Linked DNA regions of Homo sapiens: regions 1, 2, 3, 4 and 5 are each linked to region 6. Evidence: fine-mapped QTL for protein levels in blood plasma. A gene starts in region 6. Each other region holds a variant in brackets. All regions are shown on one strand. Distances are between the middles of the regions.

Region 1 (5,380 bases), 250 kb after region 6:
CTGTATTACCAGAATATTACTTTAGTACTACTTATGAGGTTGAAATATTGAAAAACACGGTTTCCAGCAACTACTCTTCACGTGAAGTTGAAAACTGAATTCCATTTTAATAATTATGACTGTGGGAGTGGTTACATGAGATTTTTCTTTTTGTTTATCTTTGCTTTTCCATGTTTTTAAGCTATCTATGATTTTAAAGAAAGCATCACTTTCATCAGATTAAACATGCTTTACAAATGAGGATACTTGTACTAGAAGCTTGGAAAACTAGGGATGCATCATCCTCAAACCTGAATAAGCGTGATTAAATGGCTTGTCCCTTCTGGGTCTCAGCTATCTCATCTGAATGTGGTTACAATCATCTCTGTTCTGCTTATTTATTCCCAAAGGTTTTTGGTGAGAATCAGACTAAGAGGTAAAGTAAAAACAGTTTACTACTCATAAATTCTGTGCAATTATGAGGCTCCTGCTGATACTGAGATTATAATGATGAAAAATAAGGCAAGAGAGGGAATTTTTATCATTACCATAGACCTTAACCCTTTCAGTCATGAGGCTAATGGTAAATTATTTAAAATTATGATATTATGCATTCCTTTCTTCTGGAAAAAATTTTTGTGTGTTGTTCCCTGAAGATCAGAGGTCAAAAACTAGCAACTAGCACATGTATTTGGTTGACCCACCCAGAGTTAGCCTATGTAGTATATTTTAAAATGTGAAACTCACTTCCTTAGCCAAAGGGTGGAAGAAAGGAACATGGGAAAAGGGTGAGGGAATGATTCTTTGTAGTTCTCCATTCTTTCAGCTGAGAACGTACTTTTTTTTACTAAGTCCTCTGGTTATGTTTGGACTTGAACACTCATTGACAGGACCTGCCTGGCCCCAGTAGGCACTGAGTTTAGAATCCTGTTGTAGATGTGTAAAATCAAGTTGTCTTTGCATGAATTCTACGTTAGGTTTTTATTTTCAGAGCAATTACTGAGCTTCCATAGGGTACTGACCTCTCCAGTGACCATCACAGTGTTGCTGATGACTCTGTAGTCTCCTCTTGTCTTTTAATTAAGAAGCCACTGTATTTTATTTATTTGTGGCAGGGCACGGTGGCTCACGCCTGTAATCCCAGCATTTTGGGAGGCCGAGGCTGGCGGATCACAAGGTCAGGAGATCAAGACCATCCTGGCTAACATGGTGAAATCCCGTCTCTACTAAAAATACAAAAAATTAGCCAGGCGTGGTGGCGGGCGCCTGTAGTCCCAGCTACTTGGGAGGCTGAGGCAGGAGAATGGCGTGAACCTGGGAGGCGGAGCTTGCAGTGAGCCGAGATGCACCACTGCACTCCAGCCTGGGCGACAGAGCGAGACTCCGCCTCAAAAAAAAAAAAAAAAAAAAAAAATAAGAAGCCACTGTATTTATTTGTTTAATATGTAGACTTCAGGACTCTATCAAAAAACTAGAATATAGTATGTGAAAGCATTTCTGACAGTGATTATGCAATGAAACATAGCTTTCAAGCTGCTCTTCTCTTGGAAAATTGTCATGTTTCTTTCTTTTTTTTTTTCCTTGAGACAGAGTCTTGCTCTGTTGCCCAGGCTGGAGTGCAGTGGTGCCAGTGCATCCAAGAACACCTGGGCTCAAGTAGTGATCCTCCAGCCGCAGCCTCCCAAGTAGCTGGGACTGCAGGTGCACACCACAATGCCCGGCTAATTTTTTTTTTTTTAATGTTGTGTAAAGACAGAGTCTTGCCATGTTGCCCAGGCTGGTCTTGAACTCCTGGTCTCAAGCTGTCCTGCCTTGGCCTCCCAAAGTGCTGGGATTACAGGCATAAGCCACTGTACCTGGGCTATGCTTCATCTTAAATGAGTCAGAGATGGTGATTTTGTCTACTCTGATGACAAAATAGATAGTTCTATTCTTCATCTTGGGTTCAGTGTTAGTGTGTGAAATAACTTTGTTAACTCTTGGATGACTTGTGTAGTAAAAATGCTGAGAAGGTGACAGGAATGTGACTTGAGACTGATGTCCAGACTTCAGAAGATAGGTAGAGGCGTGCAGTGCTGGGCCCAATGGATTCAATAAATAACATATGATCTCAGCCTTCAAGGAAAGTATAATAATGCAGAAAAGAATTTCTTTGACAATTACTATCTTGTCTTGTGATGAATAATTGGAGAGAGAACTCTTCAGAGCAAAGAAACTATCCTAAATTCCTGATGTGATTTATCAGTATTTATCTCAAATATACAAAAAAGCAAAATCTTTCACTGCTTTGATAACCTTTTAAAAACATGTTACTTTAAAAACTTTCTTGTTTTGAAAGAATATACTTTCTTTTTTTTTTTTTTTTTTTTGAGACAGAGTCTCGCTCTGTCACCCAGGCTGGAGTGCAATGGCACAATTCTGACTCACTGCAAACTCTGCCTCCTGGGTTCAAGTGATTCTCTTGCCTCAGCCTCCCAAGTAGCTGGGATTACAGGTGCCTGCCACCAGCCCAGCTAATTTTTTTGTATTTTTAATAGAGACGGGGTTTCACCAGGTTAGCCAGGCTGGTCTTGAACTCCTGACCTAAGAATTCACTTGAAATATGTTTCTTGGAACGTATCATTTCTACACTGAATGGACATATCTGGCCTTATATATACTATGTCTCACTTTCTTGTGTGTGCCATAATTGCATGCATGCACCACCCTTTAAAACAGCAACTGAGGGCCGGACGCGGTGGCTCACACCTGTGACCCCAGCACTTTGGGAGGCTGAGGCGGGCCGATCACGAGGTCAGGAGGTCAAGACCTGCCTAACACGGTGAAACCCTGTCTCTACTAAAAATACAGAAAATTAGCTGGGCGTGGTGGCGGGCGCCCGTAGTCCCAGCTGCTTGGGAGGCTGAGGCAGGAGAATGGTGTGAACCAGCTTGCAGTGAGCCGAGATTGAGCCACTGCACACCAGCCTGGGCTACAGAGCCAGACTCCGTCTGAAAACAAAAACAAAAACAAAAACAAAAAAACGCAAAAAACAGCAACTGAGATAAAATTGAGGTGTTTCTAAACACCTCAATTAAACAGTAAAATTAAA[CAGTAAAATTAAAA/A]TTAAACAGTAAAATTAAAGAGTCATTAATAGTTGTATGTGCGCTTATGAAAATGAGGCTGGGAGGAAAATAACTGATTTTTATTATTTATTTATTTTTGAGACGGAGTCTCGCTCTGTCGCCCAGGCTGGAGTGCAGTGGCGCGATCTCGGCTCACTGCAAGCTCTGCCTCCCGGGTTCCCGCCATTCTCCTGCCTCACTCTCCCGAGTAGCTGGGACTACAGGCGCCCGCCATCACGCCCGGAGAATTTTTTTGTATTTTTAGAAGACACGGGGTTTCACCGTGTTAGCCAGGATGGTCTCCATCTCCTGACCTCGTGATCCGCCTGCCTCGGCCTCCCAAAGTGCTGGGATTACAGGCTTGAGCCACCGCGCCCGGCTGAAAATAACTGATTTTGTTATGGTAAAAATAATCCAGCTTCCTCTGGACCGCCAGAAACAGTTAATAAATACGTGTGTAGCCACGGTTCCCTCTTTACATATAATTGAATTGTTGGAAGATAATTTTAATCAGGAAAGAAGTTATCGGGTAGTTTTGGTTTGTGTTCTTCCCCCTAATTGGTTTTCTGCTATTTCTAAAATGTTACATAATATATAGCTCCTCACCCTCTACCTTAGAGAAAATTATCCAGTAAAAGAATACAAAAGGCTAAAGATATGTTTACTTACCTATCTTTTTCAGTGTAATTATGGTTTTTCCAGGTAGTTTTTTTGCTATAAGGGTAATGTCCTTTGGTTTTGTTTACATGAAAGAACCATGACTTTCCAGCAGGAAATGAAAGTAGGCTGTTATTTCTAAATGCTGGAAAATGTTTTTGTTTTCTTGGTGGAAGTGAGAGATTGAGGGGGCCAGAAGTCTTGTTTAATTTTGTAGTTCTGTATTTGAGTTCTTTGGTAGTTGATAGAGAAAAGTGAACTTTAAGAAGCCATTTGTATTTATTTGTTGAGTAGACAGTTGGTCTTCCATGTCTGTGGGTTCTGCATCCATGAATTCAACCAACCTCAGATTAAAAATATTTTGAAAAAAAAATTCCACAAAGTTCCAAAAAGCAAAACTTGATTTTGCCATCCACTGAGTACTGTGTTGAATCCACTTGAATGAAATGATATGTAGGCATTGTATTAGGTATTATAAGGAATCTGGAAATGATTTACAGTAGACAGGAGGATGTGCCTAGGTTACATGCAATTGCTATGCCATTTTATATAAGGGACTTGAGCATCTGTGAATTTTGGTATCTGAGCGGGATTCTAGAACCAATCCACTGAGGGTAGTGAATGAAAACTCTATAGAATCAAAGGTTTTATTGAAAAACTAGCATTTGGGAATGTGACAGTATTTCTGACAACAATTACCCAATGAAGTAGCTTTCAAGCTATTTGTATCTCCAATCCTTTCTTAAAAGTTCCAATAAAACGTTTTCTTTTAAGATTTTCCATGAATATTAGTTGGGAGGATAGCTAATGATAAAAAGGCAGGGAGTTCAAGACCAGCCTGGCCAATGTGGCGAAACCCCGTCTCTACTAGAAAAATACAAAAATCGGCTGGGCGTGGTGGCAGGCGCCTGTAGTCCCAGCTACGCAAGAGGTTGAAGCAGGGGAGTTTCTTGAATCCCAGAGGCAGAGGTTGCAGTGAGCTGACATTGTGCCACTGCACTCCAGCTTGGGTAAGAGAGCGAGACTCCATCTCAAAAAAAAAATAATAATAATAATAAAAATAAGGAGAGAAAAGAGTCCTCTTTTTAAAAATTGAGATAAAATTTGCATACTATAAAATTCACCATGTTAAAGTCTAGTATATTGACAAGTTTGTGCAATCATTATCACAATGTAGTTCCAGAGCATTTTCATCATGCTAGGAAGAAAACATATGTCCTTTAGAAATCATTCATTTATTTCCTTCTTCCCCCAGCCTCGAGCAGCTACTAATCTACTTTCTGCCTCTATGGATGTGCCTATCTGGACAGTTCATATAAATGGAATCATACTATGAGATCTTTTGTGTCTGGCCTCTTTCACTTAGTGTAATGTTGTTTTTTGTTTTTTATTTTTTTGAGACAGGGTCTTGCTCTGTCATCCAGGCTGGAGTGCAGTGGCGCAATCTAGCCTCACTGCAGCCTCAACCACCGGGACTCAAGTGATCCTCCCACCTCAGCCTCCCGAGTAGCTGGGACTACAGGCACAGGCCATTATCTCTAGCTAATTCTTTGTATTTTTTATAGAGACAGAATCTCACTGTGTTGCCAAGGCTGGTCTCGAACTTCACTTGCCTTGGCCTCGAAAAATGCTGAGATTAC
Region 2 (5,337 bases), 330 kb after region 6:
TCAGGGACAGAGGTAGTATCTAAAGCCTTGAGAGTGGATGCATGCACCTAGAAAGTGAGTGCAGAAAAAAGAAAGAATAAAAGAAGTTCAAGTGTAAGGATGAGCCCTGGGATATTTCAATCATGATGACAATAATATGTGCCAGGCACAGGCCCCTTATCTGCAGGGGCTCATTTGCCCCTTACATAAATGCTGCAAGTTAAGTTCTCTCAACCTGACTTGATGGAAGGGGAATCTGTTTCACAGAGCTGGGTCATCTGTTCAAGGGCACACAGGTGGTTAAGAGCTAAAATCTATCCGACAAAGTTTTCTTTCCTCTAGCAATCTAACTTATAAACCTTGGTATTATCCTTTGTCTTCCCTTCCCCATCCAACCAGCCTTTGATTTCTATCTTCACATTAAGCTTTAGTACAGGGCATCCTAATCCTTTGCCCTGAACAATTCCTCCTGCCTCCTAATAGGATTTCTTGCCATGAGACTCTCCCCTGCTCTAGTTCATTCCTTGTTTCCTAAAAATAAAGCTGATTGGGTCAACTTCCTGTTTAGACCTTCCATTCATTCCCCATAAATTCTAATCCAGCTCCTTAGCTTGGTAAACAGGAGCCTTCACAATCTGGCTCCAAGCTCTTTTGTGTCTCAGTTTCACATACTGTTGTTGCTTTTTGGTGCCTATGCTAGGCTTAAACAGCATGGGAACAAAAAGGCAACTGCAGTACATGATGTCAGGCACCTGATGGTGTGAGCTGTGTCTTGTTCCACATCTCAGGGGAAAGCTTTCTGCTTGTCACCATGAAGTACCATGTTTGGTGTAGTATTGTTTTACACGCCCTTCATCACATTACAGGAATTCTTTCTGTAGATGCCAAGAATGTATCATTATTATCATGAATTGATGTCAACTTTTATGAAATGTTTTTCTGCATCGACTTGGCATCATAATTTCTCTCTTTTGATTAATCACTGATTTATTTTCTACTCTTAAATTAACCTTATCTTCCTTGGATAAACCCAACTTTGTCTTCATGTGTTAACCTCTTTAAAATATATATATATATATATTTCTGGATTTGATTTGCTAATATTTTGTTTAGCACATGGCCCTACAGTTTGTACAGTGGCCAAGGGGAAGCACTTTTTTTGGAAAGGTGGCCAAAAGCAAGCTGATAAGTAGGAGCAGTTTGATTTCCCCTTCTGCCTGGAATGAGGGCCTCTGTGTGGACAGCAAGGATTGGGATGGAAGGGACATCCAAAGTTCTCTATTATTATAGGAAAATACAAATTTTGTTATTGAAAACATTCATTAAAAAAGAACACTTTCATATTCAGTACAAAATTTGGTACATACATGGTACAAAAACTGAAATAGATCTCATTGCTAAAATTCAAAAGTTTTAATAGCAGGGAAATAAAAGTCTATAAATGAGCCTATATATATATATGTTCAGCATGCCAGTTCACCTGACATAAAAATAAATAGAGGGAAGAAGTCCCCAAAACACCCCTTCAGGAAGCTTTTTTACATCACCTCCATGTATGACCCCTTCTCTGTGACTTTGATTAGGCCAAGGTTGATAAGAACAGTCTTTTCCAGTTCCAGATAACTCTCATAGTCCATTTTTAATTCAGCCTGCATTTGTTCTTTTGACTTCTGATATGTTTTCTGGGGGGGGAAGAAAAACAAGACATCCCTATAAAACACTGATATCTAAAAATACCAAAGGATGAGAAGGGGCTGTTTGTGAATAGTTGACCTGGCTGCTGTTTTCTGGAAAGGGCTGGATGGAGGGCAGGAAGGCAGGAGGGCAGGTGGGCAGGAGGCAGTCAGATGTGCTGGGAAAGGAGGGAGTGGGGGGAAACATGGTCCCCAACCACTGTCTCTCAAAAAAAAGTCCCTTTTTCCGGCCTTCTTCCCTATAACTCTTGTTTCCCTTATGTAGACTGGAGGGTGACTAATAGCCTAGAGGTTGCAGAATTCTTTTGAAATCCCCCTCTTCTGAGTCCATATGGATGGCATAGCTTGTGGATCACACGGCAATGACTACTGTCCCAGGCTGAGTCTCCAGCTGAAATTCTGGTTAGGAAAATTCCCATTTCATATGCAACTAGAGCAGTGATTATTATTGTCCATTGAGGAGTGAGCTGTTTCCAGATTTTATGTTTGCAAAGAGACAGGTGCATGATTTTCCTGAAATCTGTGTTGAACTGTACAGCCTCAACCTGGCACCTGGTGAGCACTCACACAGGCCAGCCTTGCTGGACGAACATGTGAACACTTTCTATGTGCCAGTTATTGGCTAAGTGCTGTAAATATTTTAACTCATTTAAGCTCCATTGCAATCTTCTGAGGTTGTTACTGTTGCCATTTCCCCCTTTATCAGCCGTTGCTTAGAAGGAGACATTTCTGACTAACATTAGTTGTTTTTCCTTAGTGACTTTTTTTATGTTCTCAATGTAACAGAGGAACCCTTTCAAATTCATTCACATACCCACAATCTATTCATAGTTGCAGAGAAAATTTGAGAAGTGGTGGCTTTACTTAAAAGAGGGCACCATATCAAATGGAAATAAAGTTACAAGAAGTTGGGAACGTTTTGGAAATTGAAAAGTATAATACAATTTAAGATATTATTATTATAATATTCAGGTGTTTAAAAAGTATTTCACATGCAAATTATTTTTGGATTATCCACAATTCTACTCGCTCCCACTGATGTAGATAATTAGGAGCTGTTGCTATGGTATTTAAACACTCATAATAATCGTGGATAATTGCTGGGGAAGGGGAAGGGTGGCAGATTCTCTCCCACAATAGAATCTCAACAAATCAACATTTGTTAAGTGCAAAAGAACAAAACTAAG[A/C]TCAATTTGTTTGTAGCAGTGGAATGCAATGAAAGTTTAATTAATTGGCATTCTTTTACACTTTGTCACCAAACATGTTTTGAAATGAGATCCTCTGCTTTTATTGCACTAATTAGTATTTATCAATGAGTGATAATGTTAATTTATTTGCTAATGCAGCACATTACAATATTTCCACATGCTAATGCTTTATTTTTTTTTTTTTTTTTTTGAGATGGAGTTTCGCTCTTGTTGCCCAGGATGGAGTGCAATGGCACAATCTCGGCTCACCATAACCTCCGCCTCCCAGGTTCAAGTGATTCTCCTGCCTCAGCCTCCCGAGTAGCTGGGATTACAGGTATGTGCCACCATGCCCGGCTTATTTTGTATTTTTAGTAGAGACAGGGTTTCTCCATGTGGGTCAAGCTGGTCTCGAACTCCTGACCTCGTGATCTGCCTGCCTCAGCCTCTCAAAGTGCTGGGATTACAGGTGTGAGCCACGGCGCCCAGTGCCACATGCTAATGCTTTTGAGACTGAAGGCCTCATGTGAGTAACTGTGTTTGAGGATGTATGTATTTGGCTATACGGAACCTACAGATGAGATCAATGATGAAATGCTGGTAACAAAAGAGCAAAGGAGAGAGGGAGCAAGAGGGAAACAGAAATTGAGACTGAGGTGATCTCAAGTGAGAAAGAGAGAAAAGCCTAATTCACAAAGTATTTAGAAGCCCAAAATTCCAGTGGGCAAGGGAAGACCAGCAGAGTCACAGAATTCGTATCAAACAGGGAGAAGCTGAGAAAGGGAGCATGGGGTGCTTTAGAGCTTAGGTTCTTTTTTGGCAGAGTTTAAGATGGATGTGCCCTGTACCAAATTCTCCTCTATTTCAAGTTTCATATCTTCAGCATATCATATACAGTAAAATTCACCTCTTTCTCTCTACCCCCTCATATCTATTTATCTATCTATCTATCTATCTATCTATCTATCTATCTATCTATCTATCTATCATCTATCTAATCTATCATCTATCATTATAATTATAATAGCACTATTTACTGAAAGTCTATTTGTCACTTTCTTTAACTGACAGCCTTACAGTAATCCTAGTTATTAGTATTCCCATTTTCAAGATAAGAGACCTGAAGCTCAGCAAAGGTGACAGCCTTGCTCCAAATCTCACAGCTAGTCAGTGGCAGAGTTGGGATTTGAGCCCACGTGTCTTGATTCCATATTCAACTCTTTTTGCACCACCTTCTTTAATGCATTATTCACCAGATATTAAAATTCTATAATGAAAGCATTCAAATTTTGAATTAAGGTATCTGTACTAAAGGACTTTGAAATTATAGAAAATTTCAGAAACTTAAATTGGACAGAATCTCACTACGTGTCTAACTGGCAGTGAGCTAGGAAATCAAAGGAATGCCCTCTTGACTCTCATGAGAACAAGAGAAGAATGTGAAAAAGTATAACTTTTCTATGGAAACTGTGGATTAAGCCAAACAAATATATTTCCACTGGTGTTCGAGGAAAACATCTTTCATTTCTGAAATTTAACTTACAACTTTTTTCTTTGCCATTTCTAGTTCCATTTCTTTCTTTTCTTGCTCACGAATTTTTTTGCGCTGTTCTACGTATTCCAGATGCTTGACTTCTCTTTCAAAATAGTGGTTGACACTTGCCATCTGTTAGAAACAGAAGTCCATGAGAGGGTGACAGGCAGGAAGCCCCCATGACCTTTACAAGGCTCTGTTAGAATTTCTGCTGCTTGTAATTAGGTAGACGACCTACCTAATCTACCTCCCTAATCTACTTGATCATTATCTAATGATCATCTACCTAATCATTATGTAGATTATCTATTTTGTGATACTTTAAATCTTTTAGGTGAATATAATTTGGAAATTGTATTCACAGGCCCACTACCAGAGGAGCTGGTACAATTCAGGGGCTACTGTGCTAACATTTAGGGCTCTGTGACTTGGAGGTTTCCAAAGTAGGGTTGGAAGGAGAGAGCTGCAAAAATGTGCAATTTTGTAGTAGAAATATTCAGGGGTTGCTTTTTCCCCATTTCTTCCTTCTTCCTTCTAAATCTGGGGGAAGTTTCATATCATCAATCAAACTTAGAAAACCCAGATGAGAGTATCAATGTAGATCCTAGAGGGACTGGAAGCAGAGCTGAATTCCTGGTCCCTGGAGGGCTTCGAGTGTAGGCATAGAATAGAAGCAGGAAAGTCAGCAGAGACCTTGGGGAAGGCAACCAGGGCAGAGACAGCCTTTTGCCTGCCAGTAACTAGGCTGATGTTTGGACTTGCAGCAGACTGCAATCTATATGTTTAATGTTCATTGTATATACATTTATATATTTCTATTCATTGATCTTTTTAAAGCCTCATTATTAACATTGTTTGAAACACTTGGGTGGTGGGTACAGTGTGGGGGGTGCAGAATACCGCCAGTTCAGCTGTGCTGCCTGCTATACTCCAAGTTGGGTTG
Region 3 (5,380 bases), 22 kb before region 6:
TGATTTTTCCCTCCTTATCCCTGAATCTAATTTCAGCCATATTTTACAGACATTTACTCTGTCTCTGCCTTCTCTTCCTTCAGGTAGTGATAGTTCAGGCTGCTGGAATAGCACACACCCTATTATTTTTGCTTTCAGTAGGGTTATCCAAACGTATTTTGTGGTCATACTGTTTTTCCCTTCTTTGTTCCTTAGTTCTTTCCCTTTTCTGGTCTGAATAACCATTTTAACTTTATTCACAAAGACCACTAAATCTTCTGTGCTAACATTTTCTCAGAACTTCCACTAAACATGTTTAGAATGGCTAGAATGGCCTGTATAACATGCCTGGTAAGTAACAGCTGGGTGCAAGTTGACTATTGTTTATAAGTAGTGACATGACAAAAATACATTTCATAGCGTATGTCTATTAATTTGCATTTTCAAATGCAGTCACCATCTTCATATTAGAAAATTCAACCGTATTTGATTCAGAATGCTGAAATTTTGAGGATCTAATGACATGCTAATGAATATACACTGAACATGTTGCCTGACTTTTAATACTTTTTCACCAGTCATCAGAATATAATTCCAGTTTATGTCTAACCTCATCAGAAACATCACCTTTCAGTCTCTAGGACTCTAGCTCTCTAACTTTGTTTCTGCAGATCCTATTAGCAAAAAAATGATTAAGGACAGCTTCAGTTTTCCCAGTTTTGACATTAAGGGTATTTGATGCCACAGTAGTATACTGTGCAACTGTAAAAAAGAATAGGGAAGCTCTTTATATGTCTATATGGAAAGATCTCTATTAAGAAATGAATGTTCATGTCTCCCTCAAAACTCATGTGTTTAAGTCCTAACCCTCAATATGATGATGATATTTGGAGATGAGGCCTTTGGGATGTAACTGGGGTTAGATGAGGTTATGAGGGTGGGACTCTCATGATGTGATTAGTGCCTTTATAAGATTAGATGCCAGAAAGCTTGCTGGTTCTCTATCTGCATGTTAGGACATAGTGAGAAGAAAGCCATCTGAAAACCAGGAAGAGAGCCCTCACCAGAATCTGACCATGCTGGTGCCCTGATCTTGGACTTTCAGCCTCCAGAACTGTAAGAAAATTAATTTCCATTGTTTAAGCCACCCAATCTATAGTATTTTGTTATGGCAGTCTGAGCTGACTAATACAATCTCCAATATTTATTATTATTATTATTTTGAGACAGAGTCTTGTTCTGTCACCCAGGCTGGAGTCCAGTGGTGCGATCTCAGCTCACTGCAACCTCTGCCTCTGGGTTCAAGTGATTTGCCTGCCTCAGCCTCCTGAGTAGCTGGGATTACAGGTGTGCACCACCACACCTGGCTAATTTTTTGTATTTTTAGTAGAGACGGGGTTTCACCATGTTGGTCAGGCTGGTCTCGAACTCCTGACCTCCAGTGATCTGCTTGCCTCAGCTTCCCAAAGTGCTGGGATCATAGGTGTAAACCACTGCATCTAGCCTCCAAGATTTATTTTTAAGTAGGGGAGAAAAGAGTGCCAATGTGTACTGCAAAGTGCCAATGTGTACTGCAATGGGAGTTAAAAAAAGAAGAGAAAATATACTTGTACTGGCTTGCATATATGTTTTTTAAATCTTGGGAAGTGTAAATGAGAAACTGATAATATTGGTTACCTGTTTTTTGGAGATAGGCAGATAGAGAATAAGGGAGGAAAGGAGACATTGCTGTATATCTTTTTATACTTTTTGATGCTTGAACTATGTGAATGTGCTACCAGTTCAAGGAATTAAATAAATAAAATTTACTTTTTTAAAGTAATAAAACAAAAACATTTAATAACAAAAACATTTCATTTGGAAAAATAAGATTATATTCAAAGAAGAAAAATACTGATTATGTTGAAAGAAGATGGCTGACTAGCAGAATAACTAAAGCAGAAGTTTACATTTGATGCAGGCACAATTTGAACAAGATGAAAGAATAGGAGCAGATGTATTAAATAACTTTCCCAGTCAGCTCTTTAATAACTCCCATGACAGTGTAGGCAATTCTTATTGTTACTGCCCTTTTCTTGGATCTGCGTTGGCTACTGCCAGCAGAGCTGGAAGTGCCCACATGACATGTATTCAATTGAAAGGTGATAGCCACAAGTTCTCAAGTACTCTCAATAATGCTCAGATGGTGCCTGAGAGTGACACCTTCTCCTTCAACTTCCCTTGGTTGGAAGTCCTAAGTACAAGGAGAGCAACTACTGAGAAAAGGATCCAGTCATCCATTTGAAGAGGGTTAATTTCTCTTCCAAGAACACAAATGTAACTTTTCTCACAACCTACTTTGGCGAATTAAACATCCAATTGTTTTACGGACACTATATCATACTGCCCCAGAACATTGTCCTTCTGTAGTTCTGATCATTTTATTTCTGTTTAATATCTATCAAAGAATTCTTCTCTATTAGTTTCAGGGTAAAATCCAAAATTCAAAATATGATATTCAAAGACTCTGGTCATCAGGCTTCAGCCTATCTCTCTACCCACATCTGCTCATTTTGAGCTGTTTTGCCATGACCCCAAAGTGCTTTCCTTTCTCTACCTCCATGCCTTTTTAAATGCCATTTTCATTGCCTGGACTACCCTTCTATTTCTTCCTTTTGATGATGCTTTTCCAAATTAAAGTGAGTGTTCCTTTTCTAATATCACCCTGTATTTATTGCACACCATTGAGATTCTCTATGTGCTTGTCCTTTCTATCAGACTCGAGAAGTTCAGGGGCCATAGCATATTCATTTTGCATCTCCAATGCTGGCATCCAGTAAGCATTTGATGGCTGAATGACTGAATAAATATGTAGTCTAGCTGAAGTTTTAAAGACAGAACATTGTAGTACCCTATAATAAAATCCTACCCAAGGCTTAGGAAAAGTGCCTTGCAGGAGGATTCTAACTCTGCATTTTAAGAGTATAATTCAGCCTCAGATTGACTTGTAAGAGCTGAATTCTGTCAGAACAATTCTCCCTGAGCCTTTTGATTTTTTGGAAGGCTTTCACTTTTGCAGATTTGTGTGTCTGTGGTTTGAAAACTCTGGTGAGCATTCCCATACTAAGGTAGCTCTTTGAAGATCTCCTCTGTTTAACAGCATTTTACTTCTCATATTCTAAAGCATAGATGACAGCTTGCAATCCAGTGG[A/C]TTTTCATCCTTATCTCCTGAAAACCACATTTCTTAGGCATTGTGATAGTAAGTTCCATATCTATGAAAATCACCCCACAGAAGTGAGTTTTCAGCTCAAACCTCAGATACGCATTTGCTTGCAAGAGAGCAAGAGTGACAGCAGGGCAAACTCAACCACTTTGTAGTTAGATGTCTTTCTCATGTGTCTTTCTCAAAGATTTTCTTTTAAAGTGTGAAATTTCCAGAAAAATCTAACAGTTTCTAGCCAAAATAGTTCACTTCCCAAGCTAAAGGGGTTGATTTTGGTGGGCTTCAGTTGTATCAATAGGCCACTAGTGAGGCAGACTTCAGAGATAAGCCCATCTTTTGTTAATTCACTTCACTCTGAACAAAACAGACAAAATAAATGCTTGAACCCCACCTATTTAGACATGCTTGCATAAACATGGCTTCATAATAGTTTGCTTTCAGAGTCCATTGACTTTAATTGTCCTACGGATGCTGTTTAAATGCGTCCATTGATATAATGTGTTAGTGCTCATTTTCTATAGTAATGAGCATAGTCACAAGCCTGAGTTCAGTATACATTTGAGCAAAATCCTGGCACTAATCACAATATAAATAGCACATCTGATCTTACTGACATGTGGCTGAAGGCAAAACGTAAATCCAACAAAATTTGCAGGACTTTAGTTCTGATGCCATTTCTTGTAAAGTTTGGGGATAAAAATGATAGGAGTCCTGGAATATTTTTCCCATGCTAGGATTTTAGTTATTCTGCAGTTACCAAATCTGCAAAATTTCTGGATTTGTCCTCCTCCAGGAAACACTGTCTTAATTAAATAATTAATTAAGCTCATTTAAAAGCCAGTGATTCTCCTGTGGTTTGCTTCTATAATTGCCTCTTTACTCATTTAAAAAAAAACTACCTAAGCTAACTCTTTTATTTGTTCTTAATATGATGCTTTACCTAGTTCATGCAATTGTTTATCATATGACTTATGTGTCTCTCTGTGTTGTCATTGTCATTATCTGTAGAAAATTGTTAGGTCCCAAAAGGCAGGACCTGAGTATCCTTATTTTCTGTGGCACCCGCACAGCATTATGTGATATTAAACAGGCAATAATTATTTTAGTGTGATGAAGATGGGAATCTATAGCATGCTGATGTAATGTGAGTTTAACATCAAAAAATAAAGTTACTGAAGCTCAGGTATGCTATCCATAGCACACAGTAACCTGTATTAGTTACTAAGAAGGGTTTAGTATTATGTGAAAGCAGTTGATGAAATGTTCAAAATAGCCAACTTCCAATGACTCAGAGTACATGTGTCCCTTAAATTGCTCACCTGCTTTTGCTCTAGAGCTATGTTTCAGCCTGTATGTTTCCAGAAAGAGGCTGAAAAGGCATACAGGAGGTCAAATCAGCCAACTTCTACATTTTGGTGGTTCTGGTGATAGGGTTACTGAGCGAGATGGTGATAATGATTGTTAAACCATTATTTTTAGGGATTAATGTGGAATTTACATTTACAGTTTACATCATTAAATTGACATGCATTATCAATTGCACTGTTTGTAGAACTGTGGAGAAATTCCTTTTTCTATCAAAAGCTCTACATGGTTAGTCTGACTGTAGATCTTGTATCCACATGCTAGTCTTGATGGACTAGCAGAGCTCAGAGGACCAAGCCTTAAACACAGAGCACAGTTTCCTAGAAGTAAAGAATTTAACCTTTGTTCTAGTCCTTCCATCAGCCTCATCAGCAGGAAAACTGTCAAGGCTGATTTCAAATGAATCATCCTTGGCAGCATTTTTCCCCCTAAAACCGCTTATCTGTCACTTTATGGAAATTGCTACTTGCCCTCAGTGGTATGCGATATGAGCTCAGACATTACACATAATTCATTATACCACAAAGTTGAAAAAATATATAATACATATAAATATATTATATATTAAACATAAATAAATAGGTAGATAGATAAAATTTATCCTGAACCAGCTATGTATCAATAAACTCAGCAGTTTTACAGTTAAGTTCTGAAACCACAGCCTTTTGGTCACTTGCCGCCAGTATTCTTCCAAGAGAGATTAAGAAATGTTTGGGCCTAGAGGCAACCTTTAAAATGTACTGAGAAGTGCATTTTTGCCAGCTCTATTGATATTACTTCTACCTAGATGACCCACATACTTCTTGATATTCTTTAAATCTTTGCAAACTGGGT
Region 4 (5,380 bases), 1.0 Mb before region 6:
GGATTTGTGTTTCTGTGTGTGTGAGCACTAGCTGTCTCACTTTTCCCCTGAGAGAAGGTACAAGTTTAATCATTTACAGAATCTCCTTCAAAGTGGTGGTCAATTGCAATCTGCTCAAGTGCATAAGGCAAGAAGGTTATTGAAATAAATTGCAATGCCTGCTGTTACAGCTGGTCTCAAGGCTTTTATAATCTCCCTCCTTTATCACCTATTTCCCTCACTTTTACTCAGCATTTTGGTTGATCTGTATTGTTTGTTCTCTTGTTGGGGTAATCCCACCCTTCATCCCTGAGTGGGGTCTTTAGTTGTCCTGCCCTTGTTGGCTGCAGCTGCTGCATTTCCCTATGACAGAGGTCATCTGGTGTGACAGACTCAGTTTAAGTGCTCTCCAAATTTGCTTGGCATTCCCTGCAAGCTGGGTCTTGGCTGCTTGCTCAGTGGAGAGTCCTGGCTGCTGCTAAAATTCACACATCTCCTAATACCAGTGTTTCTTCTTAGCTTTCCCCAGGAAGAGGGCCTAGTTTAGCATGGCCTTCACTGTGCAGATTGTGGGGGCAGCTCCTCCATTCTCTCCCGTTCCCAAGTCTGGATTGAATGGATGTGTGGAGGCTTTTGGCTCAGATAAATCACTGCACCATGGTACTGGGATCTGGCTTTGTCAGAGGCAGCCCAAATGGGCCAAATAACAGAAACCAGAGATGCAGGGAGTTAGCACCCTAAGGGACAACCTTTCACCAAAGAATATTTCCAGCATTCTAGAAGTTTCCTTTGCATTCCCTTCCAGTAAATCCCCCCAAAAGATAATTGCTATTCTGACTTCTATGCCACATAGGTTAATTTTGCCTGTTTTTGAACTTCATATAAACAGAAATATGCTGTATGTACTCTTGCATTTCGCTATTGTGACATAACATTTTCTATATGAGATTCAGCCAAGTTGTTGAATGTAGCAGTAATATGTTCTTTTTCCATTCCATTCCACTGTAAAAAATACTGCAATTTACTTACCACCCACTCTTGATGAACATTTGGACTATTTCCAGTTTGGGACTATTATGAATGAAGATGCCATAGATGTAAGCATTGATTTCAGTTGCAAATATACAAAGAGTGACATTGCTGGGTGACAGGGTATACATCTATCTAGTGACAAAGACTCCCTCCTTTGACCAAAACTTAAGTCAGGATCCTGAGTCTTCTCTGACTAGGTCTGACCTTGGGCTTCCCTCTCTGTCCTTGCAGAATCCAGTTTGAGCAAGAATCCTGCTAAGTCAGTTTAGGGAAAATCCCCACGTTTGGTATCTGACCATTCTCAGCATCTTTCCACCATGGCCTGCCTTCAGCAATAACCCTATCAAGTCAGTTTAGCCAGACATTCCTTATCCTTGATGTTTCCTCATAGGCATTTTTCATCCACTGACCCCACCCTTCTCCTTGGTTATAAATTCCCACTTGTCCTTATTGGAGTTGGAGTTAATCTACTTTCTCTCCCCAACTGCAAGACCTCCTTGCAATGGTCCTTGTACCTATCACCATGCCTCCCACCCCTTACCATCTTTAACAAGTGTTTGCATGAAGTTTTTCTTTGATACTAGATTATGTTGATCTCCCAAATACTTTTCAAGTGGTTGTACAAGTTATTCCACATTTCCACCAGTACATTGTACTGTCAGTCTTTCTAACTATCCATTTTCTTGGGAGTGTAGTCATATCGTTCTGTGGTTTTGATTTGCATTTTCCCTAATGGCTAATGTTGTTAAAGACCTTTTTATATACATATTGGTCTTTTGTGAAGTATCTCTTCAAGTTTTTTTTTTTGCACAATTTTTAATTAAATTGTCTTTTCTTATTGATTTATGGGAGTTCTTTATATGTTCTGGATACTGAGTCTTTTGTATTGAAAGATATATTGAAAATATTTTCTCCTAGTTTGTAGCTTGCCTTAATAGTATCATTAGATGAATAGAGATTTTTAATTTTAGTACAGTCCAATTTAATCTTTTATGTATAATGTTTTTGTGTCATATTTAAGACAGCTTTCCCAAATTCATGAAGATATTATACAATATATGATTCTAGAAGCCTTGCTGCTTGACCTTTAACATTTAGGTATACTGATTGATCTCAAAATATTTTTGTGTATGGTGTGAGGAAAGGTTCAAGGTTTTTGTTTTGTTTTGTTTTCCTCTGTGATAGCCAGTAAGTTGAGAGTATTTATTGAAAAGACCATAATTTCCCCTACTGAATTACAGTTGTGCTTTTGTTGTGCATGAGGTGACTACAGATGTGCAGGTCTGCTTCTGAACTCTCTGTTCTGTTCCTTGTTCCATTGGTCTGTGTGACTATCCTTACCTTGATTATCTGGTAGTGTAAACAGTCCAGATTTGTTTTTATTCAAGACTATTTTGGCTACATTAGGTGCATTTCAATATAAAATTTAAAAGCAGCTTGTCAATTTCACATACAAATATCTGGGTTTTATAGGGGTGCATTAAGTTTACAGATCAATTTTGGAAAAATTGACGTCTTTATTATATTGTGTATTTCAAACCATGGAGATGGTATGGCTCTTCATTTTAAGTTTTATTTAATTTTTCTCAACTGTGGTTTAT[A/T]GTTTTCAGGATAGAGATCTTGTGCATCTTTCATTAGGTTTATTCTTAGGGGTTTTTCTTGGTGCTATTGTAAATGGTATTTTTATAAAATTCCATTTTCTAATTGCTTATTGCTGGTATATAAAAATATAATAAATTTTTATGTATGGACCTTACATTTAGTGAACTTGTTTAATTCACTTAATTCTAGTATTTGTAGATTCTTCTGGATTTTATATGTATATAATTATGTCATTTGTGAGTAATTACATATTGATTCTTCCTTTCCAATATTTTTGTTTCCTTCTCTTATTGGACTAGCTAGGACCTTGAGTACAATATTGAATAGTGAAAATAATGGATATCTTTTTTCTTGTTCCCAATCTCAGGGAGAAAAACATTCTAAAGAATTCTATATTTTACCATTAAGTATGCTGTTACCTAGAGATATTTTGTAGATACCTTTATCAGATTAAGAAAGTCTCTTTGGGCCAGGTGCAGTAGCTCACACCTGCAATCCCAGAACTTTGAGAGGCCAAGGCAGGAGGACTGCTTGAGTTTGAGACCAGACTGGGCAACATGGTGAAATACCACCTTTGCAAAAAATACAAAAGTTAGCCAGTTGTGGTGCCATGTCCTGTAGTCCCAGCTACTTGGGAGGCCGAGGTGGGAGGATTGCTTAAGCCCAGGAGAGCCACTGTACTCCTGCAATCCTGCCTCTCACTCTCACTTTGAACAGAGTGAGACCTTGAGACCCTGTCTTTAAAAAAACAACAAAAAAAAGTCTTTTTCTATTCCTAGTTTTTTGAGAGGTGTTTTTTTGTTGTAGTTAAATCATGAATAGGTGTTGAATCTTATCAAATGCTCTTTATATATCTATTAAGATGAGTATATAATTTTTCTTCTTTGTTCTGATAATGTAATGAGTTACAATGATTGATTCTTCAATGTTAAATCACTCTTACATTCCTAGAGTAAATCTTAGTTGATCATGATGTAGTGTCCTTTTCAATTTGCTAATATGTTGCTTAGGATTTTTGCATATTTGTTCATAAGACTGGTGTGTACTTTTCCATTCCTGTAGTGTCCTTGCCAAGTATCAGTATCAAGGATATTCTGAGGCTGGGCGTGGTGACTCTCACCTGTAATGTCAGTACTTTGGGAGGCTGAGGCAGGCAGATGACTTGGGGTCAAGAGTTTAAGACCTGCCGGGCCAACATGGTGAAACCCTATCTCTACAAAAAAATACTAAAATTAGCTGGACATGGTGGTGCAGACCTGTAGTCCCAGCTACTCAGGAGGCTGAGGCAGGAGAATTGCTTGAAACTGGGAGGTGGATGTTGCAGTGAGCCGAGATCACACCACCTGCACTCTAGCATGGGTGACAGAGTGAGACCTTGTCTCAAAATACACACACACACACACACACACGAAAATTAGAAAATATTTGGAACTAAATGATAATTAAAATATGGCCTATCAAAATTTATATGACAAAGCTAAAGCAATAGTCAGGAGGAAATTTAAGAAACTAAGAAATAGTCTTATAAAAACAGTTTCAGAGTGTATACAGACAGAATATAAATATGCTTTTTTTTTTTTTTTTTTTTTTTTGAGACAGTGTCTTGCTTTGTCACCCAGGCTGAAGTGTGCTGACACAATCTCTGCTCACTTCAACCTCCACCTCCGGGTTTCAAGTGATTCTTGTGCCTCAACCTACTAAGTAGCTGAGATTACAGGCCCATGCCTCCACGCCCGATAAATTTTTGATTTTTTGGAGAGATGGGGTTTTGCCATGTTGGCCAGGCTGGTCTTGAACTACCTGCCTCAAGTGATTTGCCTGCCTCAGCCTCCCAAAGTGGTGGGATTACAAACTGTTTTCTAATTTTCATTGTGAGTTCTTTCTTCACATATGAGTTATGTGGAAATATGTTGCTTAATTTCCAGACATTTGGGGATTCTCTAGTTGATTTATTTTTGATTTCTAATTTAATTTCCCTGTAGTATTAATATGTACTAATATAAATATTATATATATATATACATATATATATACACTAATATATTATATTCCTCTTTCCCCTGTCTCATAATCTGTTTTGCCAGGATGGTAGACAAGCTTCTGAACTCTGTTAGAGGGTGGGCAATCACTCTGTGATTCTCTCCATGTGCACATTATAAATTTGTATGCCATTTCTCCAACTAATCTGCCTTTTGTGAGTTGACTTTTCAGCCAAGCTTCAGAGGGCAATGGGGGTGTTTTGAGAGAGAAGGAAGACACCAGTCAAGCAGGCAGTTAGGGTGGGTCTTTGGTTGAATCCTTTCAAACAAAAGAACAACCGGCAGACATAGATAAGGGAGCCTGCACAGAGGGGCTTATCTAAGACATGCCCACAACCGCACAGATAAAAAAGGCTACACAGGTGACTTACCCAGACATGCCTGCAATGGAAAATTCTGTCCACTAACACATGTGCAGTAAGAGGAAAAAGCAATATGGAGTAACTCAAGCTAAGGGCCCACATGCACACTAGGAGGACAGAGCGGAGCTACCAGAAATTCATGCCTTGTGCAAATGAGACATCCAGCCCTCATTGGTTTCTTATAAAAGCCTGTGCTTTCAACAATGGCAATCTTCTTCTGGGGTCCCTCACCACGGTCCCCTCTCCACCTTTTATCTTCTTCATTTTCTTGCTTCTTCTTTCCTACGTTGGTGTGAAGTAAGATCATGCCAATTTAAAACATACTCCTTTTAGATGTTTGTTCTTTTATATTGCTTTTGCTACACA
Region 5 (5,000 bases), 350 kb after region 6:
TAATAAATGTGTGTTGAAGGCTCATCGTATCATCAGTCACCTAGCTGGAAACCTCTATACCCTTCTCTAGCCACTTCTGTAATTCTGTTACCCAACTCCACTTCTCTGACCCCTGTGTTGACATTCTTGGCCCCACTGCTCAGGCCCTTTTCATTTCTGGGCTGGCCCACCTGAAATCACCGCCTGCCTGTCTTCTCTCCCTCCAGGGTTCCACTCCCTTCCCTCAGCCCACGCCAGCCAGTCGAGATCCCAGTGATGCCTCCCTGAACATCTCTATCCAAAGTAGATGGATCAGCTGTGTCACAAGTTGGTAGAACCTTCCAATGGACTGCCAACACCATGAGGCCAGGGAATTTTGTCTGTTTGTTCAGTGCTATATCTACAGGGCCAAGAGCAATGCCTGGCATATATTAAATGTGCAGTGAGTATCTGTTGAGGGATGAGTAAAGAAATTCCAAGTAGGGCAAGGCCTCCAAAGGCAGGCAAGAGTTTGTATTAGGAGGATGAGAAAAAAGGCCGGGCACAGTGGCTCACGCCTGTAATCCCAGCACTTTGGGAGTCCAAGGCGAGCGGATCACCTGAGGTCAGGAGTTCAAGACCAGCCTGGCTAACATGGTGAAACACTGTCTTTACTAAAAATACAAAAAAATTAGCTGGGCATGGTGGCACACGCCTGTAATTCCAGCTACTCAGGAGGCTGAGGCAGGGGAATTGCTTGAACCTGGGAGGTGGAGGTTGCAATAAGCCGAGATCGTGCCACTACACTCCAGCCTGGGTGACAGAATGAGATTCCATCTCAAAAAAAAAAGAAAAAAGAAAAAAGGAAAAAACAGAGCTGCCAGAGTGAGAGGGAGGTTGGTGCAGATAAGGCAGAGAGATAGGCAGGGGACGAATCTTATAGGCCATGGTGTGAAGAGTCTGGATTTTATTCATGTTGTACTGAGTTGTCACTGAAGAGTTTGAGCAGGGGGTGTCATGCTTTAATTTCTGCTTTAAGATCTTGCAGTCACTGATTTTTCTAAATCTGGTCTGATGGTGTCATTCCCCTGCTTTATAAACTTTGGTGCACAAAAGGACAAATATTGTATAATTCCACTTACGTGAGGTATCTAGAATAGTCACATTCGTAGATACAGAAAGTAGATGGTGGTTACAAGTGGGTAGGGAAAGAAAGGAAGAGGGAGTTAGTGTTTAGTGCGTACAGACGCCCAGTTTGGGATGAGGAAAAGTTCTGGACATGGATGGTGGTGATGGTTGTACAATATGAATGTACTTTTCCAACAGATTATTGAACTCCTTTGGGAAAGGAGTTTCTTAATACCACTGAATTGTACATTTAAAAATGGCTAAGATGATTAATTTTATGTTACATATATTTTACCACAATTAAAAAAATTTTTTAAACTTTGCTGTGAAACCCAAGTTATAAAGCACATATTTATTTGGTAGTGTTGCATTGCTTACTAAATGAAACTCAAATTACCTAACACAGCAGGAAAGGCTCTTCAGTATTGGATTCCAACCAGGCATTCTAGACATACCTTTCCCTCTTACACCAAACTATTTCACTAACTCCAGACAAATACTGGGCTTTCATAACTCCAAATATTGTTCAGGCTGTTACTTCTGCTTGGAATTCTACTCTCAACCTGACCTTTGAGATTCCTTCTCAACCTCCAACATCCAAGCAGCCTGTGGGTCACCTTCCCCAACCTCCTTCTTCCTATCGGAATGGCCTCTGGACTGGTGTTGGTGTTTATCATGTGTCTGCTCCTCGACTAGGCAGAAAGTGCCTTGAGGAGAGAGGGACCATGCTATTCACTTCTGATCCCAGCACCCAGTGCTGTGCCTGAGACACAGTCATGTTCTCCAGAGCTTGTGGAATTGATTGCTTTCCTCTTCATACCAAAGTGTGGATGAAGATTGCATTCTGGTGAGACTGAGCTATGGCCTCTTCTCATGGTGACTTGGCCTGGGAAAAATACTCTGTATTTCAGGGAATGAGAGTCATGAGTGAAAAGAGCATCTCTGCCTCTGTATGACTGTAGATAAAGTTCTGAGCCTCATTTCTTCATTTATAAAATGGCAATAATAATACCAACCTTACAGGATTACTGGGATTAAATGGGATATAATTTGGAAAATAACTTGGCACAGACACTGATACATAGAAAATGTCCAGTAAATGTGAACTCGCTTTGGTTATTATTACAGTATGTCCTTAGAAAATGGCAGCCATTATCATTATTATATCCAATTGTTATTTATCTTTTGAAATGAGTGAGTTTTTTCTGTCTCTTCTACTAGATTGTGTTAGCCCAACAAAACACTATAGTTTCTTAGTAAATCTCTAACACTTAGTATGGTTTCTTCCAAATGATAAAGGTATTTGATGAATATTTGTAGATTGAACAATATATTATTAGTTAAAAAGTATGCAATTTTACAGATTTGTCCACATACGTTCAGGAACATTTTAAAGGTGAAACTATGAGGTATCAGAGTTAAAAATGTTTAATGCAAACAAGCATACTAAAATATGAAAATGGTATAACTTTTATGTCTTTACACAGCAAAAATGTACAGTAGATATTGTAATAACATATTTTAGTATAAATAAGTATTAATTTTAAA[A/G]GCAGATAATCCCAATTTACCTCTGTTCCCACAAAGAACTTTGTGCAGAAGTCATCTATTGGCTTGAGAAGATTGGCCATCCCACTTTCCAGATTATGATACGGGTTCATTTCTTCTGCCTTCTCTGTTTTGCTCTGTGCTAACATTTTGTCTTTCAGAGGAGTGTGGGTAGAAGAAGTACATATTTACAGGGAAACATCTTTTAAAATATAGACAGTTTACATTTTCTGCCCCTTGCCACCTGCATTTGCCCCATTCCCTTCCCAATGTAGTGAGCATAAGTCCAAGCATTTTTAGATTTCTAATTTAGCAAAAGAACCCTCTTTTGTTCCAAACCAAACATCAATGACTGTGCTATATTATAGCTCTAGCTATACCTGCACATAGTGTAAGAGCATAGGTAATTCGGGGGCTGAAACACAAACATCATCGGCAACCTGTTTCTTTTTAAAAGTATTTGATGTCACCTTGTTTTAAAAGTCTTTTTGTAATCTAAAATTAATAAATGTTATTTATTTAAGCCTTGGAGAATAAAGAAAAGCATGAGTAAAAGAACGAAAATCATCCATTATCATGTCTCCCAGAGATAATATTAAAATATTGTGACTTTTCTTGTAAATTCACTTTTTTTTAAAAAACTGGATAATATCCTATTTTAGTTTTATATGCTGCTTTTCTATTCTCTTAAAGCTATGTCCTAAACATTTTTCCAGGTAACTTACTAGATTTTTGAAAATATGATATTCAATTCCTGGGAAAGATGGTAGAGAAATATATGCTCATAAAACCCTCCTCTACCACACTTCCTCAATATGTCCTCTGAGTCATATTACCCAAGAGGAAACAAAAAGCCATAAAACCAACCAACAAACAGACAAGTGAAAACTAAAACAGGAGAATAAAACTTCAGCTATACTAAAAAGACATATTACATTTAAAAAAAACTTTAGCATAATTCTGGACAAAACTTAAAAATGATTATCATGATTTAGTTGGTATAGTCAACCAATACTCTCTTTGTTTTGGATCTACATGTTTTGAGACGTATCTTTTCCCACTAAGTAAGACATCAAAAACGAGTATCAAAATGAACCAAACATCGAACTAGATCTTTAAATAGCTGTATTACAAAGTGTAAACCAACATTTCAAACATGACTGGGCATATTCAATCACATTATTCTCATTAAAAGATATTATTTATAATACATGTAGGAAGAGCAAAAAGGCATTTTGTACCCATTTAATGTATACAATTAAAATCATTAAAATATTTATTTCAAATTCTTCACTCACATTTCAATGTCTGTTCCTCTCTTTTTAAATCATGTACACAAATATATTAGAGAAGTAGAATATGTATATAATTTGTAAATACATATACATACATTGAGAATCTGAACTCAGAAATGTTAAACAAGGGGCTATAAGATTAAAAGTGTGGAGACTTCTGGTCTCACAAGGGGAGACAAGACCCTGATCTATAGGGTTACAACTGATAATGAAAAGGAAGAGGCAAAGGTGCGATAAATGTAAAGGAAAACATGATTAACTTGAGTGAGAGACTGGAAGTGGAGGCCTGAAGAGAGAATCAGGAATGACTCAAGTTATCAATCCTGTTCTGGACACATTGACTTGGATAGGGTAGATTGGGTTTAAACCCAGGAGACAGCAAGAGTCAGATGGAGAATTCTCAGCAGAGATAAAAGTTAGAGCCATGCAGGTAGACTGTGTTACCAATGAGGAAAGTACACAGCTGAAGCTAAAGTTCAAGGTACATTCATGAGTAGATGGCAGCAAGGTGAAATGGAGCCAGGAAAGGAGATAGAGGAGGAATAACGGAAGAAGTAGCAGGATAGGAAAATCACAGATGCTAAGAGAAGTGTGCGCTCCAAGAAAATAGGCTGAGTTAATAGCATTTAATGTGGTAGAGCAGGGGTCTGCAGCCCCTGGGCCACAGATACTGGTTCGTGGCCTGGTAGGAACTGGTCAGCACAGCAGGAGACAAGCAGCAGGTGGGCGAAAGAGCATTACTGCCTGAGCAGTATGTCCTGTCAGACAGCAGCAGCATTACATTCTCACAGAAGCGTGAACACTATTGTGAACTGGACATTCAAGGGATCTAGGTTGCACGCTCCTTATGGGAATCTAATGCCTGCCCCCCTGCCCCCACCTCCCCCTGCCACCCAGTGGAGAAATTATCTTCCACAAAACTGGTCCCTGGTGCAAAAAAGGTTGGGGAAGGCTATGATAGAGTCAAAGAAGGTGAGGCTAGGGAAAAACGTTATTAACTATGTTTATTCAGAGTTGACGGGAATAACTTTGGATACTTAGATTCAAAATCATCCTCATAGGTCATGGATTTCC
Region 6 (5,380 bases):
AGGCATGAATGAAGATTGCTAGATGGTGGCCAGCTAGAGACAGATGGAGCCTCAATGTCTGGTAAAGTCTGCAGTAAAGAGCAGAATGAAGTCCTATACTTTATTTAACCCGGGAGCTAAACAAATAAACAATATATAATAAGAATAAATAGGCTGGGTGCAGTGGCTCACGCCTGTAATCCCAGCACGTTGGGAGGCCGAGGCAGGCGGATCACCTCAGTTGAGGAGTTTGAGACTAGCCTGACCAACATGGAGAAACTCCGTCTCTACTAAAAATACAAAATTAGCCAGGCGTGGTGGCACATGCCTATAATCCCAGCTACTCGGGAGGCCGAGGCAGGAGAATCACTTGAACCCCGGTTGCAGAGGTTGCAGTGAGCTGAGATCGCGCCATTGCACTCCAGCCTGGGAAACAAGAGCGAAACTCCATCTCAAAAAAAAAAAAAAAAAAAAAAGAATAAATAATGAACTAATTTAAAAATAAATAAATTTTATATTTAACCAGGGCAAGCTTAAGGTAAAAGATCAACTTTCACCTGTAACTTTGATGGAAATCCTCCATCTGAGGACACCATTAAGTGATTTCTGACGCTAAACTGGGGCTAATGGGGCTGCCTGGATCCCCTAAGAATTTTGCTTTAGAAGTACTACCTAGTCGGTCTTAAAGGTTTGTTATTTTACTTTTGGTCCCACTTCCCAATGTCAGTGTCAGAGCTGTCCTTGAGACTCCTCAAATTTGGGCAGGGCGTGGTAGCTCATGCCTGTAATCCCAGCACTTTGGGAGGTGGAGGCGGGTGGATCACCTGAGGTCAGGAGTTCGAGACCAGCCTAGCCAACATGGTGAAACCCTGTCTCTGCTAAAAATACAAATTAGCCGCGAGTGGTGGCGTGCACCTGTAGTCCCAGCTACTCAGGAGGCTGAGGCAGGAGAATTGCTTGAACTGGGGAGGCAGCAGTTGAAGTAAGCCGAGATCGTGCCACTGCACTCCAGCCTGGGCAACAAGAGTGAAACTCCGTCAAAACAAAACAACAACAAAAAACAAAAAAAACTCCTCAAATGTGAAGCTGAGAATTTTGAAGCTCATTTATAAATTCACACCACCCTTGTGGGAGGGGAGAGAAGGCAGATCACATCTCTGGGCTCAGTTGGGGCAACCATTCTAGGATGCTCAGAGAGACCTGCTCCTAGAAATCCAGAGTTTCCTAAAAGCTGGGATCAGAGTTCTGGCAAGAAGGCTGTAGCCTGGGCCTTGGCCCTAGACCACCAAAAAAGTGAATACAGGCTTAGGCAGTGTTCATAGAGGCCCAGCATCTGGAACAAGGGTGCTGCTGTAGTCTGTGCTGGTCAGACCACACAGGAAGAATTGTTTATTTTCCGGATACTATGATTTTAAAAGGATACAAGCAAATTGGTGTGTATCAAAAGGAAGCTGACCAGAATGTTGAAGGGACTTGGAAACCAAATCACTAGTTACTTTTCAGTGGTTTGGGCTCCAGGACTGGAGGGGGTTTAGGGTGGGGGGTAGAGGATGGTGTTAGGCAGCATAGATAATTAGAACTGTTTTCAGATATGCAAATGCTGTTTTGTGAAAACACACACACACGCGAACACACACAAAACAAGAAAAACTTGTACTTTAGGTAAGGCCAGAAAACAGAACTGGGACCCGTGGGATTTAAGCTCAACATGAAGAATCTGTAAACCATTATAGCTCTTCAAAAGTGGGCTAGACTTTGTAAGCACGCAAGGTTTAAACTGTTCAGGTAAAGACCAGGAAGCCCTCCAGCTGCTCTGTCCAGACCGAGGCCGGCTCTCCAAGTCCGCGCTGGGGACGATGGGAGGTGTGCACCTGCGACAGAACACAGGTACCGCCAGGTCCGGGTAGCGGTGGCTTTTCGCCGAGGTCCCCCGCCTCCGCATACTTCTTGCCCTCGCTGCTTCCCCGGCCGCCTCTCCTGGCCCCACTCCTCGCCCGGCGCTCGCCGCTACAACTCCCGCCTGGGCTGGCGCGAGACCCGCGAGCGCCGGAGTGGGCGCGCGGGATGCGCGCGGGCCGGCGCCCGGAGCTCTGGGCATGCTCAGTCGCGCGGGCAGGGCTCCGGGCGCGAGCTGGGCTCCTTCTGCACCACATTCAGCGGCTGCCAAGAGGAGCCGACGGGCGCTCGCAGGCTCAGCGCGCGCTGCCCGCGGCAGGACCCGGCCGCCTCCGCCGCCGCCGCCGCCCCTAAGCCTCCCGAAGCCATGGCCGGGCTCGGCCACCCCGCCGCCTTCGGCCGGGCCACCCACGCCGTGGTGCGGGCGCTACCCGAGTCGCTCGGCCAGCACGCGCTGAGAAGCGCCAAGGGCGAGGAGGTGGACGTCGCCCGCGCGGAACGGCAGCACCAGCTCTACGTGGGCGTGCTGGGCAGCAAGCTGGGGCTGCAGGTGGTGGAGCTGCCGGCCGACGAGAGCCTTCCGGACTGCGTCTTCGTGGAGGACGTGGCCGTGGTGTGCGAGGAGACGGCCCTCATCACCCGACCCGGGGCGCCGAGCCGGAGGAAGGAGGTAACTGCCGACTCGAGGGGCGCGGCCGGGGCGCGCGCCAGGCCCTCCCCCGCCGCCGGCCGCCGTGTTGCCTGGGGAGTCGCGCCATTGGCCCTCGGGCTAGTAGTTCACAACTTCCCGTCGGGGGGCGAGTGTGTGTGTGTGTGTGTGTGTCAGAGAGTCAGAGAGAAGTTCATTGTTCACACCTCCCGGCTGCCGGCAGCCTTCTGGAGGATCCGATTCAATGTGGTTGTACGGTCTCGGGCAGGTGGGTGGGCGGGGGATTCCGTCTCACGGGCATTTTTATTTGTGAAAATTAAACGGCAGCGACGACAGTGCAACTCTGAGTGTTTCCCAGGGAGCGAGGGCCGCGAGGGGTGCCGCTCCGGTAGGGCGGGTGGAGGCTGGGCGTCCCTCCAGGGGGCAGCGCCAGTCGTGACACCGAAGCCCCCAAGTCCTGCCTGGCGCTCGGAGCAGGACAAGCTGGATGAATTAACGGGGTGTCGGTGCCCACAGACCTGGGGCTTCTCAAGTTAGTTTTCAGTGGTGGCGAGTGAGTCCCAAAGAACGGGACTAGTAAGTGAATGAATGGAAGGAAAAGTGTTTTGTTGGTGAGCTGTGCTAAATGTGTGCATGAATGGGCTAGGTTTGAAAAGCTGTACTCTGTGCGGTGTTGGGTGTGTGTGCTAGCGAGCGTGTTTAATTAGAGATGGTTGTTTCACAAATTCCATAATTTTTATTCTCTATATTTTTAAACTCACAGCAATTAAGAGAGTTTTTCTGTTCTCAAGGGTTGTAACTACTTTGAAATACTGCAGCTTGTGAAATGGCTGATTGCTTTAAGTGCAATGTAGGTTAGTGGGGAGAGACAAATAGAGTGAGATTGGATTTTAAAATGCCATCTGGCCTGGGATTCTTCTCATTGCCAGTTAAGAGCCCAGGCTCAAGACTCCGTTGCTATTGGCATCCAGTGGCATTGCAAGAAGCTAGTGGTTTCTTTCATTTCTGGAGATTTAAGAATTTTTTTTCTATTTTGTCTGTATTCACTTCACATTGGAAATGCCTCATAGAGCTTATGATAAAATATGCTTATTCCTCACCTGCTCCACTACTTGGTTGATGGAATGCCACATGGTCTGAGAAAATAAGCATATTCTACTAATTTCTCATCGAGATAATCAGCTTTTATTTCACCCTCCATTAACAGAAAACCAAAAGAGTAACAGATCTCTGCTAGCCCTTTGATGTCTTTGCCACACCTCTCCATCTTTGAGTCTGTGAGATGTCCCACTCTTTTAAACTGATAAGGAATGTAATCCCATTTGAATACTTTCTAATGCGTTCTAGGCCAAATGGCAGAGCTATGGTTTGAACTTAAAAGAGCAAAATCGATTTCAAAACCCTTTCAAAATGGCACTCTTTTGATGAGAGTAGTCCAATTTCTTCTCAAGAGACTGTCACCATATTTATTCACCCATTTCATTTTATTCCTATAATAAAAGCTTCCAAGCTTTGGCCTCCCTGATACCTAAGTGAGCAGTGATCTTTTTCCCCTGCCTAGATTTTGAAGCATACATTTTAAATTGGTTTAATTCTGATATCAGCCTGGTGGCCCACTGCCAGAAGTCACATGGTGTAGTGGATAAAAACATTAGACTGAATCTCAGCTCTACCACTTTCTAATTCTGTGACCTTTAGGGAGTGTCTCTTGCCTCAGTTTTCGCATCTATACAGTGGACATAATAATACCTGTTTCACAAAGTTGTTGTAATAGATGTATTAATCTACCTGAAATTCACAGGACAGGACATTTGATGAATGTTGACTATTATTATTCACTTAACTATGGATCAGGGAAGATTTACTCCGTTAATAAGAAGTCAGCTATACACTGATGTAGTTAGTGACATCTCTCTACTATGTGATACTGCCTCTGGGTTTGGGTCTCCTGCTGGTGCCTGCCTTTGCATTGCACATGATCTGGGTCACCAGGGTAACAGGCCTCCCAGGCAGGGAGAGGAATATGGGCAGTCAGTGTTGGATGGGATGCTTCTGGAGGGCAGAGTCATGTAGGGCAATGCTTGTAGAAATCTCTCACGGCACCAGCTCACCGCCTTGGTAGGTGTTAATGCTTGTTGAGTGAGTGGATGAATGAATGAATGATGAATGAAATGCTAATACAAGAAGATAGTTACTTCAAGACCCTCTATGGATTGCTGTATATTTTTTTCATGTGATGTCTGCATTCCCAACTGTGAAAATCCACAGTAGCCAAGGAATTATTTTAAAATTATTGTCACTGATCTCTGCCTCTAGTCTTGTCAATTTTCCATTCCATTCCCACACTGTAGCCAAGCTGGTCTTTTAAAAACTCAGATCTGATCCTGTCCCTTCTCTGACTAAAATTCTCAAGGGGCCCCCACTGAGCTTAGATAAACCCATTGAGCTGGGCTGTGCTTGCCTTTCCAGCTTCAGCTTCACCTCTGATCCCACCCCAAGCATCCCCTGATCCATGGATCGAGCGAGGTTCTTTCACTGAAGCTCACCAGACTATTGCTTTTATTTTGTCCGGGTACTCTTCCTCTTTCCTCTCTTCCCTTTTATCTGTCTTAAGTTCTCAGCTTACTGTTATCACTATTATTAGCTAATATTTATTGGGTACTTGCCACTTGCCATACACCATACCAGATTTATGATGTGCATTTCATTAATACTCACATCAACTCTTTGAACTCAATACTATCATAATTCCTATTTTAAAGTTGGTGAAACTGAGGCCTGGAGAGATTAAATAAATTGGCCAGGGTTATAGAGTGTAACCTGTAAAACCAGGATTTGAACTCGGGTTTAGAGAAC

Direction of the effects. Alleles are on the strand shown, and positions count from the first base shown. The strength of an association depends on the size of the effect and on how common the allele is.
With allele CAGTAAAATTAAAA in place of A in region 1, the plasma level of the protein whose gene starts at base 2,129 in region 6 is higher (moderate association).
For the plasma level of the protein whose gene starts at base 2,129 in region 6, A is the high allele of the variant in region 2 and C is the other (weak association).
In carriers of allele A in region 3, the plasma level of the protein whose gene starts at base 2,129 in region 6 tends to be higher than with C alone (moderate association).
With allele T in place of A in region 4, the plasma level of the protein whose gene starts at base 2,129 in region 6 is higher (weak association).
For the plasma level of the protein whose gene starts at base 2,129 in region 6, allele G in region 5 goes with a higher level than allele A (moderate association).

What was found. PIP is the chance, under the fine-mapping model, that this variant and not a neighbour inherited with it causes the effect. The UK Biobank Pharma Proteomics Project read protein levels with antibody pairs (Olink). The fine-mapping took linkage between variants from a reference panel, not from the people measured, so its PIPs are less certain.
Region 1: its variant is fine-mapped to the plasma level of the DDAH1 protein (UK Biobank, PIP above 0.99).
Region 2: its variant is fine-mapped to the plasma level of the DDAH1 protein (UK Biobank, PIP 0.94).
Region 3: its variant is fine-mapped to the plasma level of the DDAH1 protein (UK Biobank, PIP above 0.99).
Region 4: its variant is fine-mapped to the plasma level of the DDAH1 protein (UK Biobank, PIP 0.98).
Region 5: its variant is fine-mapped to the plasma level of the DDAH1 protein (UK Biobank, PIP above 0.99).

What each region holds. Positions count from the first base shown.
Region 1 is chr1:85,209,180-85,214,559 of GRCh38, reverse strand. No RefSeq gene overlaps it. Among named protein-coding and RNA genes, the nearest start is that of SYDE2, 11 kb to the right of the region's middle. The variant CAGTAAAATTAAAA/A (reference allele first, on the strand shown) is at 3,071.
Region 2 is chr1:85,129,179-85,134,515 of GRCh38, reverse strand. It overlaps DNAI3 (dynein axonemal intermediate chain 3), which reads right to left. Exons shown (of 23, transcript NM_145172.5): 22 at 4,404-4,526; 23 at 1,378-1,661. The coding sequence ends at 1,518. It overlaps MIR4423 (microRNA 4423), which reads right to left and starts at 722; the gene lies at 643-722. The variant A/C (reference allele first, on the strand shown) is at 2,861.
Region 3 is chr1:85,484,006-85,489,385 of GRCh38, reverse strand. It overlaps a transcript of DDAH1 not described here. Among named protein-coding and RNA genes, the nearest start is that of DDAH1, 22 kb to the right of the region's middle. The variant A/C (reference allele first, on the strand shown) is at 3,170.
Region 4 is chr1:86,461,336-86,466,715 of GRCh38, reverse strand. No RefSeq gene overlaps it. Among named protein-coding and RNA genes, the nearest start is that of CLCA1, 4.9 kb to the left of the region's middle. The variant A/T (reference allele first, on the strand shown) is at 2,613.
Region 5 is chr1:85,115,514-85,120,513 of GRCh38, reverse strand. DNAI3 (dynein axonemal intermediate chain 3) reads right to left here. Exons shown (of 23, transcript NM_145172.5): 17 at 2,655-2,785. Among named protein-coding and RNA genes, the nearest start is that of MIR4423, 16 kb to the left of the region's middle. The variant A/G (reference allele first, on the strand shown) is at 2,635.
Region 6 is chr1:85,461,908-85,467,287 of GRCh38, reverse strand. It overlaps DDAH1 (dimethylarginine dimethylaminohydrolase 1), which reads left to right and starts at 2,129. Exons shown (of 6, transcript NM_012137.4): 1 at 2,129-2,545. The coding sequence starts at 2,243. RefSeq lists silencers at 1,871-2,280, 2,521-2,720.